Regions from separate parts of the Homo sapiens genome. Here region 1 is linked to region 2. The links come from fine-mapping of genetic effects on gene expression. A gene starts in region 2. The other region holds a variant in brackets. All regions are shown on one strand. Distances are from middle to middle.

Evidence for each region.
Region 1: its variant is fine-mapped to the expression of MVK in anterior cingulate cortex (GTEx, PIP above 0.99).

What each region holds. Positions count from the first base shown.
Region 1 is chr12:109,597,446-109,613,977 of GRCh38, reverse strand. MVK (mevalonate kinase) reads right to left here. Exons shown (of 11, transcript NM_000431.4): 11 at 15,853-16,532. Among named protein-coding and RNA genes, the nearest start is that of MVK, 32 kb to the right of the region's middle. RefSeq lists enhancers at 2,253-2,753, 14,761-15,450. The variant C/A (reference allele first, on the strand shown) is at 6,865.
Region 2 is chr12:109,569,429-109,579,649 of GRCh38, reverse strand. MVK (mevalonate kinase) reads right to left here and starts at 5,856. Exons shown (of 11, transcript NM_000431.4): 1 at 5,777-5,856; 2 at 4,750-4,841; 3 at 3,505-3,652. The coding sequence starts at 4,827. MMAB (metabolism of cobalamin associated B) reads left to right here and starts at 6,146. Exons shown (of 9, transcript NM_052845.4): 1 at 6,146-6,303; 2 at 7,940-8,001. The coding sequence starts at 6,170. RefSeq lists silencers at 5,616-5,845, 5,866-5,995 and enhancers at 5,755-6,254, 6,255-6,756.

The DNA.
Region 1 (16,532 bases), 31 kb before region 2:
TTTGTTTAATTATACACCGCAGAGCGCTGAGACTCGTTCTGCATGTTGATTTGTTGTGCACTGACATTTTGACAACTGGTTCTCAATTTGTCTGTCGTAGTTAGGCAACAACAAAGCCGACGGTAATACTTTAACTTTCAAAACCTTCAGTGTGCCGGGGAGAGGGAGAATGGCATTCCTCACTGCGGGCCCGCAGCTTGGGCTCTCGAAGGCAGAGACACGGGGAGAAGGGCAGGTGAGGGGCGGAGGGGACTCCCGGGACGACGCCAGCTGGGGAGGTGGCTGACATTCTGGATCGGGAGTTACAGGGCCAAGGAACAAGCCCCTGTTCTGCGGGGTGGCTAAGTGGAAACCCTCCCTAATCTCTGGGCCTCAGTTTCCTCCTCTGCACCAAGAATGGGCTGGAGTCTGAGATCTTCAAGGAGCCTGTAGATGCCAAAACTCTGTCTTCTTTTCTCTGTGTGCTAATGTCTTCTGTGTAGCATCATTTGTCCCCTCGGCCTTAGCAGGGGGATGTGATTTTTTTTAGAGACTGTCTCACTCTGTAACCCAGGCTGGAGTGCAGTGGTGTGATCATAGCTCACTGCAGCCTCAAACACCCGGGCTCAAGCAAGCCTCCCTGCTGAGTAGCACCGGGGCTACAGGTTCGAACTCCCCCGCTCAAGCCAACCTCCCTGCTGAGTAGCTGGGTTACAGGTGAGAGCCACAGCACCCAGTCTCCAGAGGAATCCTTTATTATCCCAATGTGCAGAGGATGCAACTGAGACTCTGAGACTCAGCAACTTGTTAACCAACCAGCAGGTGGCCACACCAGAACTCAAACATGGAGTTCACTGACTCCACAATCTGTGGTTCTAACCACTGTATCCACCTCCCTGGCTCAGGAGCCCTGAGCAAGGGACAGCTCTCTGGGCCTCAGATTCCCTTCTGTGATGCTTGGATGTGGTAGAGTGGCACCCAGCCCTGCTGGGGGCCAGGGACAGAGTACACCAGCAGGATCACAGCATGAAGCAGGATTGAGCCCCACACAGGGACCCCCAGTCTCAGTGGAACTCCTGAGCTCACCCCATTCCCTTGGAGGTTCCTTAGGCCACCCTGTGGGTGAAACTACCCAGTGATGTCCAGAAAGTCCCAGGACAGAGAGTGACTGCCAAGGGGCCCAGATTCTACCCCATGCCCAGACAACAATAACAGATGGCTTTTTGTCCCATGTGCCTAGTACTCTGTTGACACTTTATTACCAGCGGGCACAATGGCTCACACCTGTAATCCTGGCACTTCAGGAGGCCAAGGTGGGAGGACCACTTGAGCCCAGAAGTCCGAGGCCAGCCTGAGCAACAGAGAGATCCCGCCTCTAGGAAAAATTAAAACTTAGCTGAGTGTGGTGGTGTACACCTGTAGTCCCAGCTGCTTGGGAGGCTGAGGTAGGAGAATCAATTGAGCCTGGGAGGTAGAGGCTGCAGTGAGCCGTGATCGCACCACTGAACTCCGGCCTGGGCAACAGAGTGAGACCCTGTCTCAAAAAAAAAAAAAAATAATATCACCTACACTCCTTCCACTAACCCTCCAAAGTGGATTCACAACCAGGCTTGGAGTCTCACAGCCTGGATTCAAACCCAACCCCTGCAATTTGCCTGCTGTGGTAACCTTGGTCGGGCTGCCTCAGTTTCCATATCAAGAAAATGAAGAGCTTGAGCACACCCACCTCTCTCGGTTCTGGGGAGGACTGAACAGGATAATTGGGTGTGTGGCCCAGATCAAGCCCTCAGCTGATGGAAGGTTCCTGTTACCACCCCATTTGACAGACAGGCACATTGAGGCTCTGCAGGGAGAAGTGCTTGCTCTGAGGTGCCTGCCGCCAGGTGGGTCTGATGCCACAGCCCATGCTCCTACCCCACCACCATAATGCCCCCCTAATTCCCACCAGGGAGGACTGGGGAAGGGCCTGAGGACCCACTGTGCAGTCTGGGCTGCCCCATCTGGCCATTGTGACCATCTCCAGGGGCTCTCAGGGTGTTTTTACCTTCCGTCTCTCACTTCCTTTTTGCTCCCTGGAGAGAGTGCCCAGCAGCTTTCTGCAGGAGCCAAGGCATGGCAGAGCCCACCACGGGGTCTTTTGCCCCTGCTGACTCCAGCCCAGTGGAGCCAGCACCATGACCTGCCCAGGCCTGTTTTTAGGAGCCAGCCCTGCCTCCTCCTCCTGCCCACAGACCCATCTGATGAAAACGCCAACGGAGAAAAGGAGGTTGTTTTGGGTGACAATGAAACTGCCAATAAAATCTCAAACGCAGAGATAGGCAATGACTATTTCACTTATTCTGACAGTTTGAGACTTTGCTGGGGAAGGGAAGTGACAGGCACCTGCCGACATCAACACCACTTCTTTCGGAGAACAGCCCGTGGGAGGGGGCTTCCCGGGAGACCTGCCTTGCCCAGATGCCAAGCGGGCTGTGGCTGCTGCTGTTGGCAGCAGGGGCTGCGGTCACCCACGGGGAGAGACTGGACACTCTGACTCTATCCACAACTCCCCTCTGGCACAGACATATGCCAGGCTCTGGCTGGAGACCACAGAGGCAGAAACAACCAGCAAAACCCCTGCCCTTAGGGTTTGTTTTGTTTTTTTAAGACAAGGTCTGGCTCTGTCATTCAGGCTGGAGTGCAGTGGTGCAATCTCGGCTCGCTGTAACCTCTACCTCCTGGGCTCAAGCCATCCTCCCACCTCAGCCTCTCGAATAGCTGGGACTACAAGCATTCATCACGACACCCAGCTAATTTTTGTATTTTATTGTAGAGATGGGGTTTCGACATGTTGCTCAGGCTGGTCTCGAACTCTTGAGCTCAAGCCATCCTGCCATCCTCCCATCTTGGCCTCCCAAGTAGCTGGAACTATAAGCGCTTACCACAGTGCCTGGCTAATTTTTGTATTTTTTGTATAGATGGGGTTTCACCCTATTGCCTAGGCTGGTCTCAAACTCATGAGCTCAAGCAATCCTCCCACCTCAGCCTCCCAAAGTGCTAGGATTACCCACATGAGCCACCATGCCCAGCCCCTTAGGGGTTATTGGGAGTGGAATCGTGTCCCCCACAAAGAGATTTTGAAGTCCTAACCCCGGATCCCCATGAATGTGACTTTATTTGAAAATGAGGTCTTTGCAGATGTAATCAAGTTAAGATGAGGTCATGAGGGTGGGCTGCTGTCCTTATAAGAGGGAATGCCATGTGAAGCCAGACACACAGGGAGAAGGCCATGTGTCAGCAACAGCCAAGGCTGGAGTGATGCAACCGCAAGCCCAGGACTGCCAGCCACCACCAGAAGCTAGGAAGAGGCAAGGGAGGGTTCTCAGAGGACCCAGTGTCTCAGAGGGTCCCTGGTCCTGTCGACACCTTCATTCTAGACTTCTGGCCTCCTGAACCATGACAGAGTAAATCTCTGTTGTTTTAAGCCACCACATTTATGGTACTTTGTTATGGGAGCCCTAATTAGAACACCGTTATAAAGGGCTTCCATGCCAACTAGGGCATCGGCAAAAGAGGCCCCACCTCCAGCTGGAGACTATCAAAAGAGGGGTATATGGCCGGGCACAGTGGCTCATGCCTGTTATCCCAGCACTTTGGGAGGCCGAGGGGTGGGGGATTGCTTGAGCCCAGAAGTTCGAGACCACCCTGGGCAACATAGCAAGAACCCCATCTCTACAAAAAAAAAAAAAAAAAAGTAAAAAATTAGCCAGGCATACTAGTACATGACTGTAGTTCCAGCTACTTGAGAGGTTGAGGTGGTAGGATGGCTTGAGCTCATGAGTTCAAGGCTGCAGTGAGCTGTGATTGTGCCACCACACAGCAGCCTGGGTGACAGAGTGAGAACCAGTCTCAAAAGAAGGGAGCAGGGTATACCCGCTCCTTGAACAGAGTGACAAGGTGGACTCCAAAACTGAAAGGCTGCTCCAGGCACCTACAAAATCTTCCTATCTGTCACCTCCTCTCCATCTGTCCCTAATGCCACTGCCCCTCTCCAGCCATTGTACCTCTCACCTGACTCCTTTCCCCCTGCCCCTCCATTTATCATGCCGCAGCCAGAGAACTTTATAAAGCATCATTATGACCCCACCATCCCTGCCTAACACCCACCCTGGCTCCCCAGAGCCCTCAGGATAAAACTTGCTTTATGTTGGCCTCATACTTACTGTAGGTTCCAACTGAACACAGAACAGCGTTTGGATTCTCTGCGCACACCACGGTATTGCTCACTTCAGTGCCTTTGCTGCCTCAAATGCCCTCTCTTACCTTCTAGCCCAGCCAAAATTCCACCAAGGTACCTCTTCCTCCAGGAAGCCTTCCTTGATCCCATGCCAGGCTAGGAAGAAGAGGCACCCCTCTTCTTCCCTGTTCCCATGGTAACTCAGAATCCACTGCTCTTCACTGTCATCATCAGTTTGCTTAGCTTGCTCTGCCCTGTAAGCCCTGGAGGGCAGGGAAGGGTTCATCTGAGCTCAGGCAGTACCTCCACCGGATACCTCCGCCCCAGCCACACTTGGCCCTTGGCCAAGAAGCTGGCCCTTGAAACAAATGCTGGCTCAACCATCAAGACCCAGGCCAGACCACCTGCTACTTGTGACACTCTGTGAGTGTGACACTCTGCGAGTCCAGGGCTGGAGAAGAGGAACTGACTTTGGGATCAAAGGCTCTGCGCTTGAGCCCCATCTACCTGCTGGCTGGCCTTAGGCATGCTGCTTCCTGTCTCTGAGCTTCATTATCTTTGTCTGTGAAATGGGAACAGCAAGACCTACAAATATGGGGCTGAATTGTAGTCATTATTAATGATTATTATCATCATCATAATGATCAGTTCATTGTAATTGTAATGATTATTTTGTGGGCTTCTGTTTCCAAATCCATGTATCTTTCAAGGTTGCCTTCCCTGCCCAACTGCTCAGACTTGTGAGTCACGCATGCACCCTGGGAGAGTACTCAACATTCCTATATGTCATTGAATTCTTGTAACTCTTTACATATTTATTTGATATTCTTGTAACTGGATGACATCTCCCTTACCAGCAGGGACTGTGTCATATTTCAGGGGCTCTTGAGAAACTCAGCACCTGCTGCTTGATAGATGTGTGCCCTCCCTGCCCACCCACGCCCTATATCGATCTGAAACACCCCAGGGCCAGGGCCTTGAGTTGAGGAAGAAACCACAGGGTAGAGGTTATAAACTGGATGAGAGCTCAAGCAGACCCTTGTTTCCAGCCAGCTCTGCCCCTAGCAGGCTGTGAGACTGAGGTTCAGCCACTTCACCTTTCTGAGTCTCAAATTTCCCTTCTGCAAAGTGGGGCATAGAATACCTACTTCTCAGGACATCGGGAGACAGCGCACACCAAAGTGTCTGGCACATGGCAGATGTTAGATGAATGAGCAGATATTGAACCTCAGAGTCCTGGGGTTGATCCCAGCTTCACCCCTTCCTGGCTGGGTGATGTCAGGCACACCCCACCACAACTCTGACTGTCAGGTTTCTCTTCTGGGGAATGGAGAGCTCTTGTGAGAATGAAATGAGGTCATGGGTGTTAAGCCTGGCACCAGTGTGTGCAGTAAGTAATGGCTACTATTTCATTGCATTGAATTGTAGAAATGTTCAGACCTGCATGTCAGGGCCAGTGCCCCCACACCCAAGATCTGTGAAACGGAGTGAGGGAGAAGATGCAGACGGGACCTGGCAGCATGAGGCCCTTCCCCAAAATAAGGACATTTCCTAGGCCTGGGGCCTTCCAGCCCATCACCTCAAAGTACTCACTAGTCCCCTGAATGCTGAGAGGAAAGGTCTATAAAGGCCCTTCCTTCCCTTTGAGTAAAGCAAGGATAAGAAGAGAAGCATCCACACCTGCTTTGGACCAGCACCTGACCTCCACCTATTCCAAGACCCAGCAAACCCCTTTGGAGGGCTGGGCAGGTGGCCTAGGGAAGCCAGATGTACTGAGCTGAGCAGGATGGCCATGTTGCAGGCAAGGGGGCCTTTGTCTGTCTACTTCTCTGTTCATTCATTCATTCCTTTATGCATCCATTCATCCAGAAAGACTCAAGCTCTTAGCATGAGCCAGGCACTGTGCTAGACTCAGGGGGACCGGTGAGTGGGCTCCTATGTGTGCCCTCAGGAAGGCGCAGTTTCCTGAGGAGACAGGCGATGCAACAAGTCAACAACAGATGGCACATTTGGACATAAAGCAAAGGGAGAGATGGAGGGCAAGAGGGGAGAACTGCATTAGGAGGAGGGTGGGTCAGGGAAGGCTTTTGGAGGAGGTGAGTGGTAAACTGAGGCCACATGCCAGCCAGGTGAAGTGTGAGGGTGCGGAGGAGGTGTGTGTGTGTGTGGCGGGGGTGGGGGGGTCGGGGGGATGTTCCAGGCAGAGGGAACAGCAGAGGCAAAGGGCCTGGGGTGGCACTTGTTTCCATCTCCATCATCATCACTGTCATCAATGCTCCCATCTAGCCAGGGCTCCCTGTGTGAGCACCGGGAGGGACTCCATGTTCATTTTTCTCTCCTGCACCTGAGTGTGGGCTTCTGGAAGGCAGGCTGGATCAGCATGGCCCACCACTACCTCCTCTGTGACTCAGCACAGCACCCAGTGCAGAATCGTCACCCCGTCCCATGCGCTGAGTGAACATGCACAGTGAATACGCAGGCCCTGTGTTCAGTGCCCTGCCCCTGCCTCCTCGCTTTATCCCCACAACCACCTGATGAGCCGGTTCCTCGTCTCCATTTTTCACATAAAGAAACTGAGGCTGAGAGGCAATGTTGCTCACCCAAGGTCACACAGCCAGCAAGTGGCAGAGCTGAGATTCGAACCCAGTTCTATCTGGGCTCTTCTGCTC[C/A]ATTGCCCAGGCCCTCAGGCCCCTGGATCAGGAAGTGGTGGGGTTGGGATGGAGGGGGAGCACAGAGCAGGGCCCCCAGCCCCCTGCTTCCAAAGGAAGCAGGTCCGAGAGGGAAGGTATGGCCAGCCAGCTCCATAAATAACCCGGGTCCCAGGGCCCTGCCAGCAGTTTGGCAGCCGGAGAGAGAGTGTGTGTGTAATACAAACAGCACTAATCCCCTGTCAGTTAAACTGGATATCAGAGGAGACAAGCTTCCGAGCGGGGCGGCCTAATTGAATCGAATTGAAAAGGCGGAATGGGCGGCCGGGCAGCCAAGGAGGGCTGCCGGGGAGCAGAGCGGGCGGCTCGGCGCAGCTGTCTGGGCCTCTCCGCTGCCCTGGGCCGGGCGGCATTCCAGCCCCCACCACAGGGAGCCAGGCTTAGGGAGCAGGAATCACAAGAATGGGGGGGTGCACCCCCAGCGAGGGTGCTCCGCCCCCTCCGGCCTCCCCTTTATCTGCTGGCTCTGCCGTTTTCTCTCCATTGCTGACCCTTTTTCTGCTCCCTCTGTTATCTCAAATAATGTCACTGCCTCTTTAGAATCTAGTCATCAGAGCAGAAAGAAGTCCGTGCTGACACTGATAAAAAAAAATACCATCTGTGCCTCCCGGGGATGAGCTCACAACCCAGCCGCCGGTGCCCCTGCCGCCCCGCCACCCGCAGGCCTGCTGCTTCGTGGGGCACTGAGGGGTAATCAGATTCCAGGGGGGGCCCCACCCCTGGGGGTGACCCCCATGCCCCAGCTCACTCCCCAGAGCCAGAGGGGCCCGGCTTCTGAAGGTCTCAACCCTGGGGTGGTTTCCATTTTGCACCCGGGCTTGACATAATCATTTGTTATTGTTTAAAATTTGGTTTTATTACTGAACGGTATTTAAAAATCAAATTTTATCCACAACTCCAGATTTCTGAATTCTTTTTAAAAATTAAATAGAAAGGTTTGGATGGTGGGTTCACCACCCTGCAGGGCAACAGCTGGCTGGAGCTGGGGCCAGGGGCCTGCCGCGTCCTCCCCAAGCCTGGCTTGTGGCTGCCTGCCTGGTCCCTGGAGGCTTGTGAGTTTGAGACCCCTGAGCAGGGAGAGGTTATCAGAGTGATGCTGAGATGCAGGCGGGGAACAAGACCAGGCCACGGCCCCCGGGGGCTTCTCATGGGTCTGGGAATAACATCTCAGATATGAAAAGGAGACCGAGATCCAGAAAGGGGAAGCCACTCACCTAAGTCACACAGCATTTAGAAATGCTGGCTCCCTGCACAGTGCTCTCCTCAACCACACAAGGCAGGTGGGGAGGTGGGGAGTCCCGATCCTGGCCTCGCCACACACCTTCACCCTACTCCTCATCAAAGCCGTGACTCTTGCATCCACGTGCCCTCAGCCCTCCGTGGAGCCAACTCTGGTCAAAACTGACTACTGGCATCAGCAGAGGTACTAGCATCTCCCAGGGCCAGTGAGGACACGTTAGCAGCTCTCTTGCTCTTTTTCCTGACCTTGGGATGCCCCATCTTGACCCAGCACCCTCAGCCATTCAGAGCCTGGGTTTGAGTCCCAGCTCTGCCACAACCATACTGCGTGACCCATCTCTGTGCCTCAGTTTCCTCATCTGCAGAGTGTAGGTCCTTGTAGCTCTATCGGGGAATGATCTTGATGGACCAACGTCCATCAAGTGGTGGATGTGTCTCTTTGAGGCAGATGGTAGGAGATGGTAACGTGGGGCGAGTGAGAGCCGCTCTGATGCCTGCCAAGGACAAGGCCAGCTGTGTGCACAAAACATCCCTTGCCCAGTGAAGTCAAAGGGGAAATGGAGCAGATGTGGCTGTCTTGACAACAGAAGGCAGGTGCTCGGTTCGAGGGGAGTCTCTTCCTCCAAGGTTGTGTCCTCCAACTTCCAGACCTGTGATCATCACTGGCTCACATTGTGGTCTCAGGCAGCCCAGCCAGATCCAACTAGTTGCTTAAGTCCCTCAGGGCTGAAAGGGGTGGCTCTTCCCTCTAATCTCCCTCTGGGGACAGGACATGTCAGCAAAACCTAGCCTTGCCTAGTGATGAAAGGGGAGGAGGCCCCAGGCTTTAGAGTCAGTCCTACTGGATTCAAATCCTGGCTTGGCCACTTCTGAGCTGTCGCGTCGCCTCTCTGAGCCTCAGTTTCCCCCTCTCTGATAATAACAATAGTTCCTATCCCCCGGGTGCTGAGTCTAAGTACTAGGTGCCAGGCTACGTTTTATTTATTTATTTATTTATTTATTTAAGATGAAGTCTCGCTCTTTCGCCCAGGCTGGAGTGCAATGGCGCGATCTCAGCTCACTGCAGCCTTGACCTCCGGGCTCAAGCAGTCCTCCCACTTCAGCTTTCCAGGTAGCTGGGACTACAGGCATGTGCCACCATGTCCGGCTAATTTTTTTGTATTTTTGGTAGAGACGGGGTTTTGCCATGTTGTCCAGGCTGGTCTCCAACTCCTGGGCTCAAGGGATCTGCACGCCTCGACCTCCCAAAGTGCTAGGATTACAGCATGAGCCACTGCGCCCAGCCTGAGCTATGTTTTAGATGTGCATTATTTCCTAGTATTTCTACTTTACTGATGAGGCACCTGAGGCTCAGAGAAATAATGTGACCTGCCTAAGGCCCCAGAGCTGGAAGTAGTCAGGCCACAGATCAAAGGCCAGATCTGTCTGAGCCCAGAGTCCACAAAATACTGATTGCTAGGAGGATTAAATGAGAGCATCGGAGCTTCTGGCAGAGTAAACAGACACCATTATTTCAATGGATGGGGACAATGAGGCCCAGAGAGGGCAAGAGACCTGCCGGAAGTCACCCAGCAAGCCACCTTGTCCTCTTTCATTTGGTTTTCTCCTTGCCTTCCCCTCTCCACATCCTGCTCACCTCCCTTCTCCCACAAATGCTCACCTCCACATCTGGGGCCAAGACAGCCAGGGTGACACAGGAGAGCACTGTGCTTGGAATCTAGAGACCTGTCTCAGGGCCGAGCTTCTGCACCTGATGACTGCATGACTTGGAGCAGAGACTTCCTCTCTGGGCCTCAGTTTCCTGCTATGTAAAATGGGGTTCACCACACTTTCCTCCTGGGCTCGCCATGAGTATGGGCGGAGGAAGTGACACGAAAGCCTCCGGAACCACGGCCAGCATGCCGAAGCGGGGCAGGAGCAGCTCTGGTCAGTCACCTCACTTCCCTGGGGCCTGGCCCAGTTCCTGGCATATAGAACGTGTGCATTTAACATTTGCTGAATGGATAGTGCTCATGAAGAAGGGGCTGGATCCTGCCTGCAGTGGCTGTGGAGTCTGGCAGCTTCTTTCTTTGGGCAGGGAGGATGCCCATGTGCCTAGGACAGCTTCGGTGCCCCTTCAACATCCAAGGGGGCCACCGTGGCCTCAGCCAGTGCATTACCCAAATGCCTCAAAATGGATATTTTCCTGATCAGATTTAAAATATGTATAACAGCTTGGGTGCAGTGGCTCACGCCTGTAATCCCAACACTTTGGGAGGCCGAGGTGGGAGGATCGCTTGAGCCCAGGACAACATGCCAGCCTGGGCAACATAGAGACCCTGTCTCTACAAAAAAATAAAACACATAGCCAGGCATGGTGGCATGAGCCTGTGGTTCTAGCTACTCAGGAAGCTGAGATGGGAGAATTGCTTGAGCCCAGGAGTTCAAGGCTACAATGAGCTGTGATCACGCCACTGCACTCCAGTCTGGGTGACAGAGGGAGACCCTTTCTCTAAAAAAAAAAAAAAAAAAAGAGAGAGAGATTAAAAAACAAACGAAAAACCACGTATAACAGACCCTGTTAATCTGAGTGAGGGAGCATGGAGGTTTGGGCTCAGATGCCTGTAAAAGAGGCTCAGTTGGCATTCCGTCTCTTACCCTCTCTGTGCAAGTAAGTGGCTCCCTGCTCTGTGAGCCTGAGTGTGGTGAGAATCAATGCGCTCAGGCCTCCCCCATGCCCTCCCTAGGTCTGGAGGGAGGCAGGGGCTGGTCTGGGAGGAGAAGGAGCCCCCTCCCTCTCCCTCGGGCTGTGGCCCCCTCATTGCTTCCCTGGTTTTTGGGAGGAAACAGAAACCCCAAGAGAGTCCGGCAGCTATGTCATGGACCTGTCACTTGGCCACTTTTCTGCAGCCTCGTTTGTCACATTACAAGGTTTATGGTGGAAAAAAAATAAGACAGAAGACTCTGGTTTGACTTAATAGCTTGAGCCAGTGTACCTGGGACCCGGGGCCCCTTGCCCTCACGCTGCACCAGGCAGAATGGCGTCTCACCCCCCACTGGCCAGTACAGAGCCCTTTCACCCTGAGCGACAAAGAAGGGCCCTGGTCAGACCCTGCGGTGCAGGAGGTCTCGTCCAGCTAGACTGACAGGGTTCAAACCTGAGCACACTCCCTCGGGTGAGCCACTGAGCCTGTCTGAGAGCATCTGTCTGCTTCTCTGCAAAATGGGGAAATAATTCAGGCCCACAACCCAAGACACTCTGAAACCCAGGGCCTTGGCATCAAAATTCATTTGTCAGCAAATGCAGCAGGCTGGGCATGGTGGCTCATGCCTGTAATCCCAGCACCTTGGGAGGCTGAGGTGGGAGGATTGCTTGAGCCCAGGAACTGGAAACCAGCCTGGGCAACATAGCAAAACCCCATCTCTACAAAAAGTAGAAAAAGAAGCAGGGGGTGGTGGCGCATGCCTGTAGTCTCAGCTATTCAGGAGGCTGAGGTGGGAGAATTGCTTGAGCTTGGGAGGTCGAGGCTGCAGTGAGCTGTGATCTTGCCACTGCAGTACAGCCTGGGCAACAGAGCAAGACCCTGTCTCAAAAAAAAAAAAAAAAAAAAAAGGCCAGTGCCACATAGGCTCACATATTATTTATGGCCTTCACTCGACTTAGTGGGACTCTTCGTACCTTTCATATAGAGTCAGGGGTTGGTGGTGCTGCCCCAGATGCCACGTGGAATGAAACATGGGCCGGGAGGGGGTCTCCCTAAAACCTGCAAAATCCTCCATTCCACATCACATCTGGCCCCAGGATTTTGGACAAAGAATTGTGGTTCTGTTGTACCTGGTCTGCAGGGTTGCTGTGGGAAGTAAGTGGAATGATGCCTGAGGGGTTTAGCACCCTGCCTGGGATGTTACATTTGAGGAAACTGAGGCCGAGTTGGGGGTACAGAGGAGTCCCGGCTGGAAGTCACGCAGCCAGCAGGTGCAGAAGCTGGGCCTGAAGACGGATCTCTGGATTGCAAGTGCTTTTCCTGTGACAACCCTGCCGCATGGAGAAAACCAAATGGCAAGGAAGAGGACAAGGTGGCTCACTGTGTGACCTTAGGCAATCTCTTGCCCTCTCTGAGTCTTGGTCTCCGCATTCACAGCAAACGAGGTGATGGACTGTGTGATCTCCAAGGGTCCTCCTGACCCTGACACTTTTGGATTCAAGCAACTGAAGCATTCATTGGGAGACCATTGCCCTTGTCTGTTTCAGTTTTGAGGACATGAGGTGTGAGGTGTGAGGTTCGGCCCAGTGCCAGGTTTTCCTTGGATATGGGGAGGTGGGGGCTCCGGGCACAGTGCTGTGAGACCACACATCATGTTCTTTGGCAGGTTGCTCCCTTTGCCTGTTTGTTGTGTAGGTTGGGGGTCTGAGGTGTTCACAGCCAGGGCCAAGCGGGCAGCAGGGGTGAGCTGGGCCAGCACCGCTGGGGCAGATGTGACAACTCAGTTCTGTCAATTAGGTATGGTGGGGAGAGGGAGCTCGGAGAGGTCACCAGTCACCTCCCCGGGGAGAGTCTAGACACGGGCTAAGAGCAGGGCCCTGAAGTTACACAGAACTGCGTGCAAATCCCACTCTGCCACGTGACCCTGGGCAAGTCACTTCCCTACTCTGGGCCTCAGTTTACTCACCAACAGAATGGGGATAAGCACGGTAATTAGCTCAATGGACTGAAATGATTCACAGGGATAAAGCACACAAAGCACTTAGCACCATGCTGAGCACATCGTAGGTGCTCAGTAAAGGGTTCAAGACCTCCCAAAGCCATGTGGAGGGGCTGGATTCTGAATGACCAGTGTAGAAGACACAGCATTCTGCAGGATGATCCGCTGGGTCTCTTAAGCAAGTCATATCATGGAGAAAAATAGGTATGAGTGTGTGTGTGTGTGTGTGTGTGTGTAGGGCTGCTGTGCTAGATTAAAAGAGAAGCCAGGGCTGTAACAGCCAGGTATGTGGTATTAGACAGGGTGCCGGACACCTGGCCCAACTGGAGGAAATGTGACTATAGCCTGGGCATTAGAGATGAAACATATTGACAGAGAAAGGTGACTGGAAACCAAAAAGGTAGGTAACAAAACAGCATGTACAGTATGATCTCACTTTATCGAACAGCATGAACACACACACACACACACACACACACAGAGGGAAAGGTGGCAGCTGTTCACAGGGGTAATCTCTGTATGGTAAAAACACAGTGCTTTGATGTGATTTTTGCTAATCTGTATTTTCTTTCTACAGTGTATTTACACTGTTTCTGTAATAGTAAAAATATTATAATTTGAGAACTAAAGAGCTCAGACTAGGAACCAGAGCTCCTGGCCTCAAATCCAGCTCTCTGCCCCTTCCTAGAAGACAGTAGGTGCTAAGAGACAGCCAAAGAACTTGTCCAAAATTAGCTGGAAACCAGGAAGGGCTGGGGAAGGAAGCACCTGCGAGGTGCGGGCCCCTGAGCCAGGTGTCTTCCAAAGGGCGCTAGCTGAGGAAACAAGGAGGAAAACAGCCGTGGAGGAGAAAGGAGCTGGCTGGGCCAAGCACAAGCGAAGGGCAGGGCCGGCCCCCCACCACGCTTGCTGACCTGGAGCCAGCCAGCCAACGCGACTGGCTGCCAGCAGGCCACAGAAACCTTGGTGAGGAAAGACTCCTCACCAGGCCAAGTGTGGTGGCTCATGCCTGTAATCCCAGCACTTTGGGAGGCCGAGGTGGGCAGATCATTTGAGGTCAGGAGTTCGAGACCAGCCTGGCCAACGTGGCGGAAACCCTGTCTCTACTAAAAATACAAAAATTACCCAGGCGTGGTGGCACACACCTGTAATCCCAGCTACTTGGGAGGCTGAGGCGGGAGAATCACTTGAACCTGGGAAGCAGAGGTTGCAGAGAGCCAAGATGGCGCCACTGCACTCCAGCCTGGGCAACAGAGTGAGACTGTCTAAAAATAAATAAAAGGACTCCTCACTGACAGAGACGACATCAGTGCAACCATAGCAGCTACTCTGTCTGGAAAGAACCACAGTATTTCCTGCCTGCCTCCCAAAGTGAGACCCTTGCCAGAACCAGGGAAATTCTCTGAGAACTTCAGGCTGCAGACCCTGGGAGCGGCTCCAGCTTATGACCTGAAAGGCACTGCTGTTCCCCTCGCAAAGAAGGTGTCAGTGCTATGTGACCGCCTCTTTGCAGAGGAAGCAGGGAGGTGGGAAAGCCGGTGGGCCTTAGGTGTGTTTCTCCAACAGCGACCCAAGGGGTCTCAACCTAGGGGCTTTGGACCATCTGGGCAGGGCGCCTTGAGCCAGCTCTGTGCACCATTCTGAAGTTTTGGGGCTCTGGAAGACACCCTTATCTCTCAGCATAAGACAGTTATAATAATGAGTATTTATTGAGCACTTACCGTGTGCCACGCACTGTGTCAAGGGCCTTCTGTATATTTTCTCATTGATCCCCACGAAACCTCCATAAGGTGGGTATTAGTGAATCCCACTTTCCCGATGAGGAAGCTGTGGCCTCCAGAGGTAAGCTGTCTTGCCCAAGGTCACATGGCCAGGGGGTGGGCAGGGCTGAAGTGCTCAACCACCACAATGGCGTGCAGAGATGACCCTGGGGTCATCCAGTTCGGTATCTTCAGCCCTGGCTGCATTTTCTTATTTTTTAAAAATATTTTTGAGACGGGGTCTCACTCTGTCATCCAGGCTGGAGTGCAGTGGCACCATCATAGCTCACTGCAGCCTCCAACTCCTGGGCTCAGGCGATCCTCCTGCCTCAGCGTCCTGAGTAGCTGGGACTACAGGTGTGCAGCACCATGTGGTGCTTGGTCACACGTTAGAATCACCTGGGAGCTTTTAAAAGATGTCTTTTTAAAAAGATACCGCTGAGACAGATTAACTCAGAATATCTGGGGTGGAGTCAGGAATTCGTGGGTCCTTAGGTGGTTCCGAGGTGCAGCTCTGAGAGCGAGAACCACTGCAATAGGCAATGAGAAGGGGTGACAGCCGCAAGTGCCAACTGTCTACAAGGTAGCCAGGAGTGTGACACCAGGCCCATATGGTGGCCGCAGGGGTGGCTGGGTTGAAAGGTTGCTCTGGCCAAAGCGCACCGGCAGCTGCTTCACTGGAGCAAGAGTGTTGAGCTGGCCCCTGCCCCAGGAGTGACATCCTGTCCCCAGGGAATGAGAGAGAGAGGGCCTCAAGGAGCAGACGGGCTCTGGGGGTCTCAGCCTCTGTCCCCTGCACCCATCTCACAGCTGCCGCGGACATCTATGGAAGCCTGGGGAGGCTCCCAGGCCCACCTCCTAAAGGCTGGAGGCTGGCTGTCAGCCAGCGCCATCACTGAGGGCACAGCAGCCTCTGGCCTGGTTGTTCATTAAAATCGCGTGGGGAGGAAAACATGCAGGTCCGAGCCCCACCCCGGTCAAATACATCCGAATCCAGAAAAACGAGCCTGAGCACAGAAAGCTAAAAAATCGCAGTGAGCCTGCACACAGAGCCGCACCCAGCAGACACACGTAGGGGCTAAGAGCAGGCTCTGGAGTCCATTTGAATCCGGCCTCAGATGCTGATGAGCTGTGTGGACTTGCACCAGTTACTCGATCTCTCTGACCTTTGGTTTCCTGGTCTGTAAAGCGGGGATGAGACTAGCAATGACACTGAGGTCGGGGCAGAGATGAGAAGGGGCGATGCGTAAACACGCCTAGTCCACAGTGAGCGTTCAGTATTAATTAGTATTACTGCTTTATGCGTTGTGTTTTGAAGGGAAGGGGCAGGGAACAGCCATCAGTGATCTGGGGCCATTTCTACAAGTTAAGCTGGGGTAGGCGTCCTCCCTTCACTCTCACGTTCCCAGCAGTGATCCCAGGCCGGGCCCAAGGCTGGCGTGGGGGTGGAGCTCGGCTCCTGCTCCTCTCACCCTGCAGGAAGACAACAGCAGGGAAGGCCGCCAGCTGCCCCCTAGTGGCCAAGGGCAGACGCGCACTGAATCGCTTTCACCTCATCCTGAAATCCCTGCGCCGGCCCCCACCTTTCCACTCGGCCTCTTTGCAGGTCCGTGGGTCCCAGAGGTTCTGGCTGGCAAGGCACCAACTACAAGGGTTTCCTGATGGCTAATGGCATTTCGGAAAGCACCAAGCTGACTGCAATATAAAGTTCAAATAGGGCCGGTGGGGGGCGGGGGTGGGGAGTGCCAGGCACCCGGGCCAGAACATTTGAGTCTGTTTTCTCCATCCAGCCAGTTCATTTCAGAAAGGAAGGCGCGCCCCAGGAGCGATGGCAGGTTCTGCTTTCCTGTCTTACACAGGTCTGTGCTCTCGTGGGTGCTTGTGATTCTGGAGCTAGGAAGCTCAACTTCTCCCTCCGCAGCAGCAGCCTAGAGTTGTGCTGATGGA
Region 2 (10,221 bases):
GGCTTTAGGCAGACTTGGGTTTGAGTCCCAACTGTGCCATTTACTGGCCGTGTGACTTAACCTCCCTGAACCTGTTTCCCACCTTGGTAAAACAGGGATAACAACAGTGCCTCTTCTTACGGTTGTCAGGAACGTAAAGTTAAATAAGGGGTGTAAACTTTTTAGCACAGCACCTGGCATGTAGTAAGTGCTAATTAACAGTAGTTTTAAGGTTGGGTGCAGGCGCTTATGCCTGTAACCCCAGTACTTTGGGAGGCCAAGGTGGGCAGATCACTTGTGCCTAGGAGTTTGAGACCAGCCTAGGTAACATGGCGAAACCCCAACTCTACAGAAAGTACAAAAACTAGCCAGGCATGGTGGCGCACACCTGTGGTCCCAGCTACTCAGAAGGCTGAGGCAGGAGGATCGCTTGAGCCCAGGAGGTTGAAGAAACAGTGAGCTGTGGTCGCACCACTGTACTCCAGGCTGCATAACAGAGTGAGACCCTGTCTCAAAAAAAAAAAAAAAAAAAATTGTAGTCTTAAAACAAACACACACAGACACACAGACACACACAGAGAATGCTGGCTCAATCGCACAAGGGCCTAGGTTTCACCTTCCATTGTATAAAACCAAAATCAAAAGAGTGTTAAGTTAACCCCCAAAATATTTCCCTCCTCCAAAAGATAATCATCAGGAATAGGACAGTGTAAATGCGAGGCGGTGCCTGGGCAGAAGGGGAAGGTGAGGCAGGTTGTTCCCAGGGATGTACAGGAACCTGGGCCACTTTCCTCTGAGACACTGAGAAGGCAGAGCCTTTCTGGCCAGCTCACCTTTACAAATCACTCGCTGAGCCTCAGGTCACATTCTCAAGGGACTGGGAAATGGAATTGGGCATGCGTGTGTTAGGAAACTTCGGGCACTGGTTAAGTACTGGGTAAATGTGTGTTGAATGGATTAATGATATACTCAAATGGCCAAGTCATGGCATCATTGAGAACCCAGGTATTTCAGAGCTTTGTAATCGAGATGGAACAGCTGTTAAGAGCCTGGACTTTGGGGCTAGGAGAAACCTGGGTCTGAATCCTTTCAGTGTCACCAACAAGTGTAACCTGAGCCACTTGACCTCTGAACTTTAATTTTCAGATCTGTACAATGGGGATGAATACCACCACCTACTTCCAGGGAATGCTGGCGAATTCTAAGAGTGCTAACATATGTGAACACACTTAGTGCCTGGCACACGTAAGTGCCCAATAAGTGTTCACTGTAGTAGCACGGTGCAGTGGTATGTGCTTATATTCCCAGCTACTCGGGAGGCTAAGGCAGAAGAACACTTGAGCCCAGGAATTTGGGACCAGCCTGGGCAACATAGTAAGACCCTGCCTCTTAAAAAAAAAAAAAAAGTTCAATGTTTATTACTATCAGGAGGGAGCAAAAGGACACTGAAAGAAAGATGGTAGATCTTTGCAACCTAGAAGATAGTATGTCTCCCAGAGCTCCAAAACTAACAAGCCCTTCCCTACATAATGCACTCTGTGTCGCACCCCTAATGCCTGCCTCCAGTGTCGTCGGATCCTCATGGCAGCCCTCAGTCAGGAAACATGTCTCTGCTCCGAGGCCCAGAGGATGAAGTGACCTGCCCCAGGTTCACTGAGGGAGTTGGAGTGGTCTGAGACATGTTCCCCCATACCTGGCTGCTTCCACCCCAAGCTACTGACATACACAAGTTGCAGCTGGTTCTCAGGAGACATTTCTGGTCTGGCTGGGTGGCCCTGTGCACCTTGGAAAGCAAGTTCCATGTGCTCTGGCTGGTTGTTTTCAGATGCACGCTCCAAAGGAGTGGCTTTTAACTGAGGTGTCCCCAGAATCACCCAAGGAACCCCTTTCAAAAACTCCTACCACCACTACCAACTCCCAATAAGAGAGGGGCGGAGCCAGGAGCCCATCCATCTGTATTGGTTAAAAAAAACCACCACCACCATCACAAAAAACTCCTGGGTGATTCCAAGATATGATGAAGTTAAAAAGGGCTGCTCTAAAATGAGGATTTTGGCTGGGCACAGTGGCTCTCACCTGTAACCCCAGCACTTTGGGAGCCCAAGGTGGGAAAGTGGAAAACTGCTTGAGCCCAGGAGTTCCAGACCAGCCTGGGCAACACAGTGAGACCCCATCTCAACAAGTGAAATGAGAATTTTCAACTCTTCCTCCATCCCCATACGGCATATGGGAGTGACTGTGGTTTCTCATGGGGAATGGGAAGCAGGTGTCAAGGGTTCAGGTGCAGTGTAAGGAAAAAACCCAAAAAGATTCTCATTTACCCCATCCTGGCTGAGAAACACTGTTCCAAAGAGCAAGGCTTCATTCAGCCCAGGGAGCAGACAGTAAACTGACAACAGAGAAAACACACGTCAGCTCTGGGGCAGGTACAGGGGACTCCACTGATGGAAAAAGCTGGCCTGCTTATGAGTGGATGAAATCTTCACAGTGCTGTCAAAAATCAGCACACACACGTGACACACAAAGAAAAAATCAGTACTTCTGAATGGTTTATATGGCCTGACCCAATTTTGGTTAAAAAACCAAGATATCTCCCTGTCTCTATCAATCTTTCTATCAATCTACAGAAAATCACCCAGAAGGATTAATGCCTAAATGCTTAGAGTCATTACTGGGGTCAGGGAAAGGAGAAGGGAAATAATAGGTGATTTTTAAAATTACAATGTCCCAGTATTGACTATATTTTCCAATAATAAGCATAGGTAACTTGTACTTTTATTAAATTTTTTTTTTTTTTTTTGAGATGGAGTCTTGCCCTGTCCCCCAGGCTGGAGTGCAATGGCGCAATCTTGGCTCACTGCAACCTCTGCCTCCCAGGTTCAAGCGATTCTCCTACCTCAGCCTCCTGAGTAGCTGAGATTACAGGTGTGTGCCACCACACCCAGCTAATTTTTGTATTTTTAGTAGAGACATGGTTTCGACATGTTGGCCAGGCTGGTCTCGAACTCCTGACCTCAGATGATCCGCCCGCCTTGGCCTCCCAAAGTGCTGGAATTACAGGCATGAGCCACTGTGCCTGGCCTACTTTTATCAATTTTTAATTATACAAAATGCCAATATATTCTCCTTATTTAAAACATGTGTCACTTTGTCTACTCTCTGGCCCTAGGTCTCTCCCAGGAGAACTAATCACCACTGCCAATCTGATGTCTATGCCCCCGAGACCTTTTCTATCATTTATACACATATTTATACTTAAATACGTATGTTTGCTGTTTTGCATTTTTTTCACTCAACAATAGGCCTTGATGATCTGTCCACAACAGCCCACAGAGATCCAATGCATTGTTTTACACCTATAAATTTTAAAAAAATAAAATGAGTGAAGCTAATTTTATGAGGTCAGGGTAGAAAACACCCGGGAAATAGCTGGCCCCTGGCTCCCTTGGGGACAGCCCAGAATACCTGGCCAGCTGCCCTCTCTGTAGGCTCTTAGCACACCTGGTTTCTCCTCCTTGCACTCACCCAGAAAGCTTGTGTCCAGTGACTGAAGCCTGGCCACATCCCAGGCCCGCTTGATACCAATGTTGGGTAAGCTGAGGTCCACTTTCCCATTGCTGTGGGGTTGAAGCCGGAGGAATGTTCTCAAGTTCAAGGATACAGCCAGTGCTACCTATAGAATAAATGACAAAAGCAATAAGCCTGAGGGTGAGTGGCAAAGGGGCCAGGACCCACGTGCTAAGAAGAGAGCAAACATAAGCACAGAGGCCACTCCTAGCCATGCCCTTGCCAGACACTGCTAATCAACCTTGGCATGCTCTCCCACTAAGCCTGGGAACAGCCACCATCGATCAGCTAAAAGTTAAAATCCACTTTGCCTTCTGCCTGCAAAATTTCAGAGGTTCTCAATACCAAGGAATCACTTCCCCATAATCACCATGTTTTCAATGAGAAATATAAGAACATAAAGAATAGCAGTGAGAAGCCAGGTGTGGTGGCTCATATCTGTAATCCCAGCACTTTGGGAGGCCAAGGCAAGAGGATCACTTGAGCCCAGGAGTTTGAGACCAGCGTAGTGTCAGACCACGTCTCTACAGAAAAATAAAAGAAAAAAATTAGTGGGGCATGGTGGTACACACCTGTGGTCCCAGCTACTTGGGAGGCTGAGGTTGGAGGCTGCAGTGAGCCATGATCGCAAGATTGCACTCCGGTGACAGAGCAAGACTGTCTCAGGAAAAAAAAAAAAAAGCAGAGTGCAGCAGAGGTGGTTTCAGACAGACTTAGGTTCACACCAAGCTCTACCAAGGTATATAGGACTTGGATCAAGTTACCACTTCTCTCCTAAGCCTCAGTTTGCACATTTGTAAAATAGGATAATAAAAGGGTATGCCTTGGGGGTAGCTGTAAGGGTAAAATGAGATAATGGATGTTTTCAACTCCTTTGCTAGATCATCCTTCCAACTTCTAAATGTCTTAGTGCCCCGGAGCTCAGTTCTCAAACCTCTTTCCTTCTGCATCAAAGCTCACTCCTAGGTGATCTCATTCCACTCACAGGGCTTTATATTATAATCATCTTTTTGCTATCATACCGAGCGAGGCCCAAGAATCCCTTCAGTGGGCATAAGAAATCTTTTCCTTGCCTGGCTGGGGAGAACCTGATCTCTCTGATCTGCTCCCAAGCTGTGCCTCAGGGTGTCCTTTTACCTTCTTACAAAATTAGCATCAGGGAGAAGGGGTACCCAATCCTTAAAGGCTCTAACGGCTTTGTACCTTGCCATGTACCACGGCATGTTCTCCATGAAGGATGACTTTCCCCGGAGCAGACACCAGTAGGACTTCTGACAACATGGCTCCTGGGAATCCTAAAAGGGAAAGCCAATGAGAAGAGCAAAGATCTCTAGATGTCAGAACCAGCAGGAAGAGATCTTAGAACACCTAGTTCAAGCCCATCATAATAACAAAAAAGGTAGTTACCGTCCAGCACTTGCTACGTACCAGAAAGGCAATGCAGGAGTCAACTGGACACATCCAACAGATCTGGGTTCAAATGCCAGCTCTTCCACTCCCCAGTGATGTCATCTTAGTTAACTCACTTAAATGGCTAAGAACCTCGGTTTCCCCACACGTTATATGGAGAGAAAATAACCGTACCTACCTCGGTGGATGTTAGGAAGGTTAAATTAACGCAAGGGAAACACTTGGCGGTGTCTGGCACCTACTAATCATTCAATTACTGAGAGCTACTTATTACTGGCTCTGTTCTTCGTTTCAGCTTTTACAACTACTACTATTAAAGGTAGAAATTACATGAAATCATGGAGCAGAAAGAACTCTTTGCTGGACATTTAGGCTGTTTCCAATGTGTCACAATTATAAACAAGGCTGCAGAAAACACCCAGTACGCCTCGTTTTGCACACTTAAATGAGTATTTCTGCAGGACAGAGTCCTAGAAAGGAGCTTGCAGGGTCTATAGGTGTGTGCAATTTACACTTTTATACATAACGCAAAATTATCCTCCGCTTAAGGCTTTACGTAGATTACCTTACGCTAAGATTCAGGTGTACTATGAGCTAAGTACTATCGTGATCCCCATTTCTTAGAAAAACTGAGGCTCAGAGCGGGGAATCCCCTTGCTTGTCAAGCTCAAAATCACGACTGTCAGATTGAGGTCGCCGATCCCTCGGGGCAAGACTCTCAGAGCTGGGTAAACTGAGCCACAGAAGCTGGACGCCTGGCTCAGCGTCGTCCTGGGTCTAGGACCTCGCGCCGCCCGGCCGCCCGACCCCGGCCTCTCACCTGCCGCCGCCGCCGCCTCCCCGGCCGCCGCCCCTCCGCGCCGAAGCCGGAGCAGCTCCCCAACTCCCACAACCCAGAGCGCCCGTGCCTCAAGGGGAGGAGGCGTTGTACTTCAGGCCAGCCAATCAGAGCGCGCGAGCCCGGAGTACCTTTACCAATAGGCTTGAACATTGGTCAATAGGTGTTGCAGCCAAGCCGACACGGGTTTTCCCGCCCCGCTCCTTCCGTTAAACCAATGGGAAACAAGTCCCTGGGAGTGTCCCGCCCTGGGGTGAGAACTGCGAACCAATAAAAATTGAAACCTGAGCGGTGGCGCGGCCAGCTGTGGGTGGAGTCACCCCGCGGACTGGACGGGAACCTGGCGGGGTCAGGTCCCGTCAAGCAGCCTGGCTCATGGCTGTGTGCGGCCTGGGGAGCCGTCTTGGCCTGGGGAGCCGTCTTGGCCTGCGCGGGTGCTTCGGCGCCGCCAGGCTCCTGTATCCCCGTTTCCAGAGCCGCGGCCCTCAGGGCGTGGAAGACGGGGACAGGTGAGTGGCTGGCGGGAAGGGCAACTCGAACACCTGCCGTGAATCGTGGTGTCGTCGCCATGGGTACGTCACACCGCCGTGAGGTCACCGCGGCAACCGTCAGGTGACGTCTCCACGCTGTTCTGACGTCACCATGGCAACGTGGGCCACGTGGGCGCCAGAGACCAGGTAGTCTTTGCCTAAGTCCCAATGAAGTCCCGCTATCATCGGGCAGGGCAGGGCATATCCCATGTGGGCCAGGAGGGCTCTCGACTCAGATTGTGACCAATCTCCAAAGCAGTTTATTCCCCAGGTCCCAGATACACCAGCACCTTCTAAAGATGGCTTTCCTCATATTCCTTGAAACTTGCACCTCAACCCAGACCTCAGAACCTCTAGAGTACCGTGGATTAATAATGGATTAATTTAGTTCACAGATCCAGGAAATTAACCTTCGAATGGGCTTGTAATGTCACATTTTAATTTTGAGCTATGTCCTTGAGTTGTTTACATTGTTTTTTGAAAATGCCACTTTTTGAGCTGTATTTTGGCAATTCTTCATCTCTGAGTACACTCGAAGCCTCATACTATGGAAGTGGCTCAGGTTTCTTTTCCTGCAAGAGGCCCTGAGTTGGTGGAGTATAAGATAAAAATTTGGGTAGGATAGAGTTAAGAGTCCTAGCTACTTGGGAGGCTGAGGCAGAGGATCACTTGAGCTCAGGAGTTCAAGGCTGCAGTGAGCTATGATCATGCCACTGCACTGCATTCCAGCTTAGGCAACAGAGCAAGACCCTGTCTGTGAACAAAATAATCATAGGCCAGATACGGTGGCTCACGCCTGTAATCACAACACTTTGGGAGTTTGAGGCAGGAGTATTGCTTGAGCTCAGGAGTTCAAAACCAGCCTGAGCAACATGGTGAAACCCGTCTCTACCAAAAAAAAAAAAAAAAAAAAATTAGCTGGGTGTGGTGGTATACACCCGTGCTCCCAGCTGCTCGGGAGGCTGAGGTGGGAGGATTGTTTGAGCCTGGGAGGCAGAGGTTGCAGTGAGCCTAGATCGTGCAACTGCATTTCAGCCTGGGTGACAGAGTGAGACCCCATCTCAAAATAATAATAATAATAATAAATAAATAAATAATTTCGGTAGGATAGAAGTTACAGTTTGTGCTCTGGTCTAGGACAGTTTTGGGCATCCCACTCCTGCCTCTTCTTGGATGGTCTAGGAAGGTGTCTCATCTGAGCCATAGTTTCCTCCTCAGTAAAATGAAGAGAATAGGTGTTGGCTACCTTTGGGGTTGTGGAAAGATTCCAGGATAATTCCAGAAGATAATGCCTGTAAACTACTTGGCACAGTGCAGGGACAATGGCAAAGGATCAATCAAGTCCTTCAGCAAATATTTATTGAGCATCTTTGTTGAGCAAGGCATTACATCAGCTACTCTACACACTCTGTCATCCAGCTCTGGTCTTGCCCACAAAATGTTTGCTATTAGAAAGGATCTAGGGGAAAGAAATCAACAAGAGATGACCATCTAAGCAGTAAGGGGTAAGTGCTGCCTCTGAGGTTACAAGCAGCAAGCTGGGACCCTCTGAAGGAGCTGACCCTCTGTGTAAGCCATCCCCACTCACCAGATACTGATGTTTATTTCTCATTAGGCCACAGCCTTCCTCGAAGACACCCAGGATCCCCAAGATTTACACCAAAACGGGAGACAAAGGTAGGGTGGGGACAGGTGAAAAATGCAAAGAAATACTCATGGCATACACCATTTTAAAGTTCTTCCAAATTCTTTGCAGCCACTTTAAAGTATAATATACCAGGCGCGGTGGCTCATGCCTGTAATCCCGGCACTTTGGGAGGCCCTGTTGGGCTAATCATCTGAGGCCAGGAATTTGAGACTAGCCTGGCCAATGTGGTGAAACCCCATCTCTACTAAAAATACAAAAATTAGCTGAGTATGGTGGTCCATGCCTGTAACCCCAGCAGCTACTTGGGAGGCTGAGGCAGGAGAATTGCTTGAACTCGGGAGGCAGAGGTTGCAGTGAGCCAAGATCATGCCACTGCACTCCAGCCTGGGTGACAGAGCAAGACTCCATCTCAGAAAAAAAAAAAGTCTCAGAAAAAAAAAGTATGATATTTGACAGATCTCAAAATATGTTACAAAAATGTAATGTGAAATGAAAAACACCCAAGAGATATTAAATGACAAAAGCCTGAATCTGTCTGGATAAGCATGTACATATATGTGTGTTCAGGTGTGTGTAGAATAGTCTGAAAGGTTACACCTGGGACTGTTCTGGGAGAGAGATTAAGTTGTGAGAGGGGAACAAACAGAAGGACTTTCACTATTTACATACTTTTATTCTATTTTATTATTTTTTATAATGAGTATATATTACTTTAATAGTTTTTAAAATGCTAGAACATGTTATATAGAAAAAAGTAAGATGCAGAAGAATGCGTTGCTATGATCCTTTTTTTTTTTTTTTTTTGATACAGGGTTTTACTCTGTCACCCAGGCTGGAGTGCAGTGGCTCAGTCATGGCTCACAACAGCCTCCACCTTTCAGACTCAAGCAATCCTCCCACCTCAGCCTTCTGAGTATCTGGGACAACAGGCACACATCGCCATGCCTGGCTAATACTTTTTAATTTTTTTTGTAGAGATGAGGTCTTGCTGTGTTGCCCAGGCTGGTCTTGAACTGCTAGGCTCAAGGTATCCTCCCAGCTCAGCCTCCCAAAATGCTGGGATTACAGGAGGCATGAGCTACCGCACCAAGACAGTATACCATTTTTTGTAGTACAAAAGCATGCAGACCACTAGTATGTATTGTTTTTTGGATATATACTTGTATAGTAAAAGTATAAAAGCATGTACGGGACATACTCAGTGCCACTGAATGGTAAACTTAAGAAGGGTCAAAATGGTAAAATTTCTGTTATGTATCATCTGTTACCACAATTAAAAAGAAGGAAGAGGATGTTGGAAAGGACTTATTGTAGGGTTGGGCTTGTGTTGGGTGGTTACAAGGAAGTGGGGCTTTGTTCTGGATTGAATCCTGTTAGGAAGCAGGGCTGTTTCTGTCACTGGGTATCTTTTTTTGTTTTTTGAGACAGGGTCTAGTTCTGTTGCCCAGGCTGGAGTGCAGTGGCACGATCTCAGCTCACTGCAACCTCCTGGGTTCAAGCAATTCTTATGCCTCAGCCTCGCGAATAGCTGGGACTACAGGCATGCATCACCATGCCCAACTAATTTTTTCTGTTTTTAGTAGAGACGGGGATTTGCCATGTTGGCCAGGCTAGTCTCGAACTCCTGGCCTCAAGTGATCTGCCCACCATGGCCTCCCAAAGTCCTGGGATTACAGTGTGAGCCACTGCACCTGGCCTGTAATTGGGTATGTTAATAATTTGTTTCTAGAAGACAGAAGGGACAAAGAGGTGCTAACGCTGTAATGGATAAAGATGCAGCAGTCACTCACATTAGCCAGGGAAGGGGGAGGTTTGGTCATCTTTTGGAGTTTGGACACAGTCGTCTGTGCTCAGACGTTCTTCCGCAGTGGCCTTGTCTTGGTCTCGAACCGTCATAGTCATAGAGTGGCCTGTCTGATGGTTTTCTGTGAAATGGTTTGTGTTCAGCAGAACACCACAGTCTACCTGTGAGTGCCAGGCCGGCACCTGGCAACCCCAAAGCCTGCCCGATAGCGAAAGCCAGCTCCAAACTGTCAGGGGCAGTTTTCACTTTCTCAGAGGTTGGGGGAGAAAGGCGGGACTGTGAGCTAGGCAGAGGCACAGAGGACTTTGACTTCATGTGAAATATAATGGTAATGTATATATGATATAAAATATAGAACGTGTTGTATTTCTTTATCAGGATGGTTAGTATGTGGTTTTTAAGTTGAAAAGCACATCAGGAAAGAAGTGAGCATAGTGGCTAACCC